Regions from separate parts of the Homo sapiens genome. Here region 1 is linked to region 2. Evidence: fine-mapped expression QTL. A gene starts in region 2. The other region holds a variant in brackets. All regions are shown on one strand. Distances are between the middles of the regions.

Evidence for each region. PIP is the estimated chance that this variant, and not a neighbour inherited with it, causes the effect.
Region 1: its variant is the best candidate, but not a certain one, in a credible set for the expression of FOXL2 in pituitary (GTEx, PIP 0.69).

Annotation. Positions count from the first base shown.
Region 1 is chr3:139,127,814-139,133,177 of GRCh38, forward strand. No RefSeq gene overlaps it. Among named protein-coding and RNA genes, the nearest start is that of BPESC1, 26 kb to the left of the region's middle. The variant G/A (reference allele first, on the strand shown) is at 2,244.
Region 2 is chr3:138,944,638-138,950,001 of GRCh38, forward strand. It overlaps FOXL2 (forkhead box L2), which reads right to left and starts at 2,500. Exons shown (of 1, transcript NM_023067.4): 1 at 1-2,500. The coding sequence starts at 2,085. The coding sequence ends at 955. FOXL2NB (FOXL2 neighbor) reads left to right here and starts at 2,580. Exons shown (of 3, transcript NM_001040061.3): 1 at 2,580-2,827; 2 at 4,883-5,002. The coding sequence starts at 2,728. RefSeq lists an enhancer at 1-475 and a silencer at 2,516-2,744.

The sequences.
Region 1 (5,364 bases), 180 kb after region 2:
CTACTCAAGGCTGAGGCAGGAGAATTGCTTGAACCTGGGAGGCGGAGGTCGCAATGAGCCAAGATCACGGACGATAACGAGCGTCTATAGATCAATAGCAAGATCTATGGACAATAGCAGCATCTTTAGAAGGAAGGGAATGACCTCTCAGGTGACTCCTGGGGAGGCCAGTGCCCTTTTGGATGAAGAGCTGAGAGTTCTATCTTGGGCTTGTTGGATTGAAATAATTTTGCATCAAAAATTTTACGTTGCAGTCCCCAAATGATAAACTGGCCTCTGATGTGTACATTTTTTTTAAAAAATGGAGTCTCACTCTGTCACCCAAGCTGGAGTGCAGTGGTGCAATCCTGGCTCACTGTAACCTCTCCCTCCCAGGGTCAAGTGATTCTCCTGCCTCAGCCTCCCTAATAGCTGGGATTATAAGATGCATGCCACCATGCCCGGCTAATTTTTGTATTTTTACTAGAGACGGGGTTTCACCATGTTGGCCAGGGTGGTCTCAAACTCTTGACCTTTTTTATTTCTTCTGCAACAGCCAGGACTTCAAACAACAAAGACTTGATCTTGTTCAATAACTCTCATTTCCTTGGCTGTGCCAGTTAAACCATACCATTCTCCACTTTGGCTGACTGATGAAATCTCCAAGGGATGGGATTAAATGGGGTGTATGACTAATTTGTCATCCATCTCCTGCACCCAGCAGCATTTGCTGAGCACCCTTCTGTGTGCTGTGTTAGGCCCTGGGCACACAGAGACAAATAGGAGGAGGAGGGGAAGGAGGGTGGGAATAGGGATAAAAGAGAGGCCTTCATGGGCCAGTGATGATGGAGTTCCATGAAACCAAGAAGCACGTTTAACACAACTGTCTGCACCCAAGGTCAAACATGCATGCCTGCATGCACACACACAAAACAAAATGCCAAAGACAGATAAGAGATAGTCAGAGAGTAATAGGGAAGACACATACACATACACTAAATGATTGCATTAGTGTGTGGCAAAGGACATGAGACAGGGAGGGCTAAGTATAAGGATACTGAAAAAGGTCAAAGGATGGGCACCCATCTCTGCCTGGGAGAGCTGGGGCGGGCGCTTCTCAGCAGAGGTAACATTTGAACTGAATTTTGAAGGATGACTAGGAATTCACAGGCAGAGTGTGTGGGCAGCATTGTTGTCATCTGCAGAGTTGTGAGACAGCAAGGCTTACTTAGGAGGGGCAGGACTAGTACAGAGAGGCAGAAAGTCTGAGGTTTTGTGGGGAGGGAATGAATGGGGTGATGACATTGGAAGGGTGGGGAGGGCAGGTTGTGATGGTTACACAAGGAGAGCTGGTGAGGACTCTCCCATGCAGAGGCAGTAGGAATGGAATGAGAAGGATGGGAGAGGAACTGGAGAGGTGTCTGGAAAGGACTCAATGACTGGCATGAAGAAGACTCAGAGTTAGAGTTGCCACCTGACTTTGGGTAACAGAGCAAAGTGAGAGGTGTGTGGGAGGAGGTCTTGGTGCACAAAGAGGCAGTGGTGGTCAGTTATGTGTGATGTTTAAATGTAATTAGGGCAGTGTAGTGGAAAGAGCAGTGGTTGGAATCAGAGGACCTAGTTTTAAATTCTGGTTTCACCACTGTGTACCTTTAAGTAAGTCACTTAACCTCTCTGAGACTCGATTTTCTTATCTGTTAAATGGAGCTAATACACAGAGTACTCTTTTTGAACACTAAATTATTTAATATATAAACTTTGAGCACTAAATTAAATGGGCATGGTGTCTGGCCCATTTCAGGTGCTCGATTTAATCCAGATAAGCAGGTAAGCAATTTAAGGAGACAGGGGCTTACTACTGGGAATGATGGTGAGGTACGATCACCCATGAATGTGCTGAGCTACACCCCTGACTTGAGCTGAGCAGGTAGACACGGGTGGGGTATGTTGAAAACTGGTTAGGTGATGAAGACAAGTCAGAGGAGTTTGAAGGCAGTGTGTGTGTGTGTGTGTGTGTGTGTGTGTGTGTGTGTGTGTGTGTATGTGTGGTTCCTGCAAAACAAACCATCTGAACAGGTAGACTCAACGGTTGCTACAACTTTTGGTGCTTCCAGTGGCCCCCCTTGAACTAGGTTCTTAACTCTGTCTTCAAATTTCAGTCTGAAACCAGAGTATTGCCTAGGGGTGGAATTTGGTCTTCTCCGTATACACTGAAGTCAGTGAAGACTGCAAGGAACAGTAAGTCCAGTCTGCTATGAGCATCT[G/A]TCAACTCAGTTAAGCACACTCATGAGTAGTCATTATTCCCCTTTAGAACATCAGGCCCCAGGGAACAGAACAGCTGCTCTGCTGGCTTCATCTTTGTGAATATGGATGGGACCTGGTGCCTACAGAGGGCCAATGAGATGTGTGGGGAAGGGAGTGGGTGAAAAAGCTGGAGATGCCCCAAGACAGATAGACGAACAGATGAACAGGTATGCCAAGACCACTATCATTTAAGAGGTGCAGCCAGCTGAAATGGCAGGTGCTGGCATCTCCCAACACAAGTTCCACTCCTGATCAGAGGAAACAGTACAGGAACTCCTCCAGCTCTGCCCAGTGTACTTGACCCCCTACCTCTTCAATCAGGCACAGCCTTGACCTGCAGAGAAGCAGCCACGCTGGGTGCTGGGCTCAAAGGCAGCCACTGATGCAGATCAGGGTGTGAAGTATTTTAAAAAGCTGCAGTCGTATCTGCTATGCTCTAGGGAGCCTGAGAAAGTTTACTGCAGGCAGCAAGTGTCCTTAAGCATCCATTCAAAGCCTTTCCTGAGCACCTACAGTGTGCCCTGCTGTGTGCATGTGCTCAGCACTGTGGGGAAGACCCAAAGAAAGATCCAGCCTCAGTTTTCAGTTGAGCTGGTAGTCTGGCTAGGGGGAGGGGCATCAAAAAATACTACATGGATAAATAGGTAAGGAACAGACAACAATTAAGGTGCAATTAAACACCATTTGCCCATCCACTTATTCATCTACTCAGCAAATGTCTTGGAGCCTCTTCTCTCTGCCAGGCCAGCAATGTCCTTGGCGCTGCCTATTGGAGCTCATGGTCTGGTTTGGAGGTGGAGGTGGGTGCATGCTTGGTATAGGAGTAGACAGAAGCACAAGGTTCTTTTTGGGGAAGATGACACAGCCTCTGGGGTGATGACATGTGTTGAAACTGAAAGGTAGAGCAAGAGTTGGTCAGGCTGCTGGAGAGGGAGGTTGTTGGTGGGAGAGCAGTGCCTGGGTTTGAGGACAGTGGTCCCCTCATTGAGGCCAACCACATCCATAATCACAGACCAACTGCCTTCTTTCTTTTGAGAATGGGGACAAGAGTGGGAAAAGAGTAGGGTGAAAGTCCAGAGTCCCAGAAAAACTCAATCATTCCTGGGCAGGCTGGGATGATTGGTCATCCTAAAAGAGCGGTCTTGCCCTCACAATCATCGGGATGCTCCTAAACCATCCTCCAGGGCTTCGCTGAGCTATGCCTGAGCCAGATAGGTGGCCACACAAGACCAAGAGAGTGAAGGGACAGGGCCTCAGCCCTGGGAGCTCACACTCTGACCAGGTAGGTTTTCAGAGTGCAGTGCAGGTTATGGGGGAGTCGGGGGAGAAAATTTAGCTGGAAAGTCATTTCACTTTTTGGAGCCTCGGTTTCTTTATCTCTAAATGGGAACAATAATAATGCTCTCAAGGGATTGTTACAAGGGTTAAATGATATCATATGTGTGGGGTGCTTGGCTTAGGGCTCGGTGCAAGGTAGAAGCTCATTGTCTGGGGAACAGCAGAACTTCATGTGCTGTATGAAGGGTAGGTCCTGTCACATTGTAGGAGATAGTGAAGGGAGCACCCAAACAGTGTTAGAGTCATAGGCATTGGGAGGACACCCGGAAGAGGGGCCTTTAGCCTGGATCTTCCCGTTCCCTAGTGAAAACGCTGCAGGGAGCTGTTAGTGGCAGGAGCTTCTGTTTACCCATACGTGTGGGGACAGAAACTCCCAGTGCTGTCTCTCGCCCTACCTATACTGTGATTTCACTCAGAGACCAGTGGCCCTAGTATCTCCATCTGGATGGCAGTTGCTTAGGGATAAGTTCCTGAAATCCCACCAATCCCTAAAACCAAATGTGCAATTACCCTGTGGTTTGTAGGCCAAGGCCCCAGGGGCCAGGAATCCACAGACAGCAGGGCCTTTAGGGAGTTGGGTGAGGGAGGCTGAAAACTGGGATGAGCCCTGGAGCCACATTAACCCCTGCCATCACAGACTCCTACTGACATTATTGTGGGGTGCCATTGTGCTCCACCCAGATCTCTTCAGGGCTGACACGTCATCCCCCAGCTGCTGGAGATATTGCTGCTCATGGCTCACAGCTGCATCCCTCACTGAGCCTTGCCCTCTACTGTAGAAAACTGTCTTATCTAAGGGTATGTCCCCTCCCAGGGTGGCCCATGGGCCAGTGACTAGCTGGTATGGAAATACCAAGGCCCAGCTGATAGGATCAGCTGAGGCCTTGGTTGCAAATTGCACTGTGGTCAGTTTCTTTCTCTGCCTTATTCTGCCTTCCTTCCTTACATCCTTCCTGACATCTCTCTTAAGAACACCCCCAAGAGAACTTCTGCATACAGCTCTGTCTCAAAGTCTTTTTAGGAAATCCAATCTAAAACCATTGGCTCCCAGAGTGGTCCTGTGACTTAGACTCTAAAATATGGTCCCTTGTCAGCTGGCTGGCAATGAGGACCCCATCACAGGTGGGCCCACAGATGGCCCCTGGTGTGCTGTAGAGGTGCAGTTGCTAAAACTTGCACATTGGTGAGCTGGGGTAGAATGTTGTTGGCAGGCAATTTGGGTTGATGTATTATTTCTGGCACTTAAGAGGAATGAGGGAAATGATAACTATGGGGACTATAGAATTGTGTGGTTGTTGTTGAGTGCCGTTCATTTGTTGAAGAGAGATAATGGCAGGCTTTGGGTAACTAATTACAAATTTAAGGCAAAATGGAAAAGCAAGAGAGCCTTGTTAGCATCATTTAAGCAAACACTAATCTTATGCAGCCAGAGGGCAGACAAAGCAGAAGACTAGGCTTAATTATAAGAGTAGCAGAACTACAGAAGTCAAATTCTCAATCCCAGTGAGCTTTGCACACCAAGCCTCAGGTTCTTGAGATGGGGAAATCTGGGTAGATACAATTGAGAACCTTGAACTTCCAGATTCTCCTGAAGCTGCTAGGCAGAAGTGCCCTCTCTCTGTTATTAGAAGGCAGTTATCCTCCCTCCCCTCCCACACCTTGTTTGAGGCTTATGTAGAAGCCTCCAGTTAAATGAGGCAGATGCTGCATAAAACAATGCTTAATCCTCTTGGGATTCATCCA
Region 2 (5,364 bases):
ATTGGATATATTCTCCTAACTCTGAACACAGCTTTTTGAAGGCCCAACAAAAACTCTAACGCAAATCTTCCAGAAGAGAAGATGAGGAATACTAAAGCTTTTGATTTTCATATTTGGATTTAGCAAACTCCAAGGCCACAATACTTCCCCGGTTGCCCGGTGAATTTTTTTTCCTTTTTTTTTTTTTAAATACTCTCTTAAAAAGTTCCACCGATCTTTCAAACAAAACATTAGCCAGCCGCCGGGGCCCGGAGGTGCCCGAAGCGACGGGACTGATAGCGGAGGAAACGCAGCCTCCCTCCGCGCCCGCCCGCGGTGTAAACCGAGTACAGGCCGTGGAGCCAGGCTGCCCCGGCTCCCGCTGGGTCCCAACCCCCGCCCCGCCTAGTGGGCCCCGCGGCAAGCGGCTTCTGAACAGCTTCAAGAGGGTTCGCGGAGCAAACACACGTATTGGTCCGTCCCTTTCTCGGGCAGCGCGGTCCCGCCATCAGTCCTGTCCGGCGCGTCTAGCCATGGACTGCACGGCAGTCGGGCGGGGAACGCGGAGAGCGAGCGCACCGACCTGTGAGAGAAGGCCAAGAGGTCTGCGCTGCCGACGCCCGGTCGCACCTCCGCCCCGGGCCCTTTCCGCGGTGAATTTGGGCAGGAGACGCTGGGGCTCCGGAAAGAGACGAGCCCAGTAGAAAGCGCGCAGAGAGGCAGCTTCAGGCCAGGGGAGTGCAAGGTCACAGAGGTCAGGGAGGTGAGCACAGGAGGACATAAACTGAGGGGACAAAGAGGAGCGACAGGAGCTTAGGAAAGCGAAAAAGCACAGAGGGACCCTGGGCGCTGGCTCCAGAGGCGGGCCCAGAGGGTGTGAGGTCAGGCTGGCGGCGGCGTCGTCGGCTGCGACCGGGGCCGGCGTCGCGCGTCCCTGCATCCTCGCATCCGTCTGCACCGGCATGCGGTGGGCTCTCAGAGATCGAGGCGCGAATGCAGCGCGCCGGTCTTGCTGTCGTGGTCCCAGTAAGAGCAATGCATCATGGCGAGCTCGGGCTGCCGGGCACAAGCGAACTGCAGGCCCGGCGCACTGGTGGGCGCGGGCGCCGGGGGCGCGGCGGTGGCTGGGCTGGCAGGGCTGAGCTGGCCCGGCGGCGGCGCGGCGGCCCCGTGGTGCGGTGGGGCAGGCGGCGGTGCGGCGGCCGCGTGCAGATGGTGTGCGTGCGGATGCGGGTGGGGGTGCGGCGGAGGCGGGGGTGCGGCCGGCGGGCCTCCCAGGCCATTGTACGAGTTCACTACGCCGGGGGGCAGCGCCATGCTCTGCACGCGTGTGTACGGCCCGTACGAGGCGGCCGGGCCCGCCAGCCCCTTGACCACAGCGGCCGCGCCAGGGCTACCGGGGCCCGCGGCTGCAGCCGCAGCTGCTGCAGCCGCTGCGGCTGCCGCCATCTGGCAGGAGGCATAGGGCATGGGTGAGGGAGGCTGCGGTAGCGGCCACGAGTTGTTGAGGAAGCCAGACTGCAGGTACTTGGGGGGCGCCAGGTAGCCGTAGCCGTCGGCCCCGGCGCCCGCCACGCCGCACCCGCCTGCGGCGCCTCCGGCCCCGAAGAGCCCCTTGCCGGGCTGGAAGTGCGCGGGCGGCGGCCGGAAGGGCCTCTTCATGCGGCGGCGGCGCCGGTAGTTGCCCTTCTCGAACATGTCTTCGCAGGCCGGGTCCAGCGTCCAGTAGTTGCCCTTGCGCTCGCCGCCGCCCTCGCGCGGCACCTTGATGAAGCACTCGTTGAGGCTGAGGTTGTGGCGGATGCTATTTTGCCAGCCCTTCTTATTCTTCTCGTAGAACGGGAACTTCGCGATGATGTACTGGTAGATGCCGGACAGCGTGAGCCTCTTCTCCGCGCTCTCGCGGATCGCCATGGCGATGAGCGCCACGTACGAGTACGGGGGCTTCTGCGCCGGGTCCGGCTTCTCCGGGGCTGTCCCGCCGCCACCCCCACCGCCCTTGCCTGGGCTCGGCGGCGGCCCTTCTGGCTCCTTGACTGTGCGACCGGTCTCTGGGGCCAGCAGGGCCCCCGCCGCGTCCTCGGGCTCGGGGTAGCTGGCCATCATGACAAAGCCGGCGCGCCGCGGCCGGGCCGCCTCTGCTCTCCGCTCCAGGCGCTGGCGCGGCAAAGAGTTGGGGCGCACGAGTCCGCTTACGGCCAAGTCTCAAACTTCTGGAGACTGCGGATGCCGCCCGCGCTTGCTTGCTGGAGGCCTGTCGCTGCTCTCCCCTCTCCTTCCCCTTCCCCTAGGGAGCGGCCGGCGGGAGTGGAGCTCAGCCTCTGGCCATGGGGAGTCCGCCCAACAGAGAGGGGCTCCGGCCTCGCCGCCCCTCCCCGCTCAGGCCAGTCCCCGCCTTGGTGGGTTTTCTTTTCTGCGCTCTTCCCCTCCCCCCGCCCCCCGGTTTCCCGAAGCACGACCCGCGTCTCTGGCGGAGCTGCCTCCTGGAGTCCCTAGTGCGCCAGGAGCCTCGCTCTGTTCTGATTCGTATGGGCTCCACCGAGTTCCGCTTGCGTCAGGCGCCTTCGCCCCTATAGCGGGGCGGCCAGCCGCGCACGGGCGAGTTCATCTCCAAGTCACTTTTTGTAAACGCCCCGCACAGCCTGGACCGGCCTGCCCCCGCCCAGCGAGCCTCAGGGGCCCAGCCGACAGCCAGGCTCACGCGCCCTTGAAATCTGCCGGTACTCGCTCTGCGGGCTGGGCTGGGAGATGACGAGGACCCCGGTGGGGTCTGCCCGCACCCGGCCAAAGCCCAGGAAGCTCGGGCCCCAGCGAGGAAAGGCGCTCCAAGCCTCCTCGCGGCTTTCAGGTGAAAGAAAACGACTCCTTTGCTCTGCCGTTTGCTGCCGTCTTGAGGCTGAACTTCTAGCTCGGGGCTGGGGAGGGGCGAGACGGCGAGGGGGCTGGACGGGGTAGGGTGGGGAGAGCTGCTCTGAGGCTTTGGGAAAGTCAGCCCAGAAACGGGTGTGACTGTACGAAGAAGCCTCGGCCTGGCCTGTCCCTCGCGCTCTCAGAGTGACTGGGCTGGAATGGGGCAGGGGAGAGGATCTCTGGAAATAGTCGTCAGGGGCGCCGCCTGAATCACCTCTGCCTCTCCCTGCGTTACCAGTGGATCTAGGAACCAGGAATCCGTGTACTAATCCTACGGGGTTGGAGTGAAGGTTGGATGTGTGCTTTAACAGCACCAAGTAGATGCCCCTCAGCTATTGCACTAACACAGGCGGGGCTGTTGCCCGGGACTTTGCGGGACTGTGTATGTGTGTGCACAGGGGTCACATATGGAAGTCATGGAGAGGAGCTGTCCTTGAGATGGGTGAGATACCAGGTGCATGTGTGCTGCTCAGAAACACAGGTATGCACATGTACAAGGTGTGAGATTTGTATTTACGAGGTAAAACACACTTATACTGATAGTTATGTAATATGTTCATCAAGTATTAGAGTAAATGTAGCTGGTGGATATAGCATCTTCTCTTTTTCTCCTTTCTTACTTCTTTCCTTCCCCCCTTTCTTCCTTTCTTTCACAATTCTTCGATGCCTCTTTCCCTCCCAGTGTATGTATTTTGCCACAGACTGGGAAGACAAACATCAGGCTGAGGGAGGGACTTGTTCAAATCTCTCTCCTGATGAGACATTTGTTCTGATCTTTCTCCAAAGAATCAGGAGTTAGTTGTCACCTACCTTAAGCAGAATTCTGATGGGAATCCAATTATTTCAGCATGTACAGAGATTGTTTCAGGGAAAATCAGGTGTGCCTTTTAACAGTGTGCTCCTTAACAGTGCCTTTTAACTTGGCCTAAACAAAAAGTCTGCAGTCATAAAGTATGAGAGAGATGGCCAGTGTTTTGAATCCTCAAGCCCCAAACTCCTTGGTGCTGAGGAGGGGGGCAAGGCCACCTTATGGAGGAAGGTGGACTGAATGGATGTCATATAGCTGTGCATTAGTGATTGGCATGTCTGGAGTGGCTGACTCAATGCCTGTCACTGCCTCTTCCTCCCAGGCTGTTTAGACTCTGAGGGTTCTCCTGAAGCCCAAGGAGCCTTCAGCGGCCTGTGGTTCCAGCATCCACAGGCCATCTACAAGTGTTGTCTGCTGCTCACTCAGGCCTCTGATCTGCATTCTGAGATGAAAGGGAGGGAGGACAAGGGTGGTAGGGCTCTTTGGAATTCAGCATCTTGAAGATGACACCAGAGAGGTCAGCAGGGCAGCCCTTGCCTGGTCACAAGGATGAGAGGGAGCAAGGCTATCCCCAAAGTAGCTTGGTTTTTTTTATGGGCGGTCTCCCACTGCACCCAACAGACATGGGGGAAGCAGCACTTCCGCAGAATCCCTGCTGCTGCTTTCTGAGCAGGAGTGCAGATGTTTTTCTTCTTCCTTACCCCCATCCTTGCCCAAGCTTTGGGTGGGAGTGGTGAGTCCGGTTTGGGGCTGCTGCAGATTGGCCTCAGTGCCTATCCTCCCCCAGCCAGGGCCTGGGCAGGGGGAAAAACAGCTGGGTCTGGCCCCATCCTGGTGGGGGCTCCTCTCTCCTTTTCTCTCCTTTTTTTTTTTCTTGACCACCCAGGCTGGCTCTCTGCGTCTCTCTGTCTTTCTTTCTTCTTCTCACAGGCATTTCCGCTGCTCAGCCCTGCAGCAGCCAGGTGTAACAGCATTGTTGTGTGTGTCATCACTTCCCTGAATTCCACACTCGGCTCCCTTTTCAGCCTTTAAAGAGCCTGTGTGTGTATGCATGTGCGTGTGTGTGTGTGTGTGTGTGTGTGTAGGGGTTGGGGGCAAATGAAGGAGTTCCTCTGAAGGATTTTCAGAATAGAAAGGAGTTCTGCTCTGAAAATACTGATTTCTGACTGTCCCGTAGAGGAACAGAATCCCCAGCCCTGGTGAAGAAGAGGATGCCTGATGCGTGCACCCTGGGAAGGGCTGGAATCGGTCTCCCCAAGATGTGCCTTCACATGGCTGTCCGGCATTCGAAGGCTCAGAAAACAGGCAAGAAAATGCGGGCGGGAAAGCTGGCAGAATGATTACTTTCAGGTCCCCTCCAGGCTTCTGCGGAAAAGCCAGGGGCTTCGGGCTGGAGATAGAGGAATCTAGGGAGAGAACAGAATCCTCTCCTTGCCGGCCCAGCCAGAGGTGGGTGAACCGGGCGCTCCAGGAAACGGTGCGGGGCGCCCTGATTTACTTCTCAACCTTCGGAGGTAGGCTGGTTGCTGGCGAGGTCGGGATCCTCTCTGAACAGGGCATACTGTGCCTAGGTTTTGTGGACGCCAGGGCCGGTTCCTTTTCTCCCCGCGGCATTGGGGCGACGCAGGGCCCCCGGCTTAGTGACCTTGGGGCGGCGCTCACCTCCA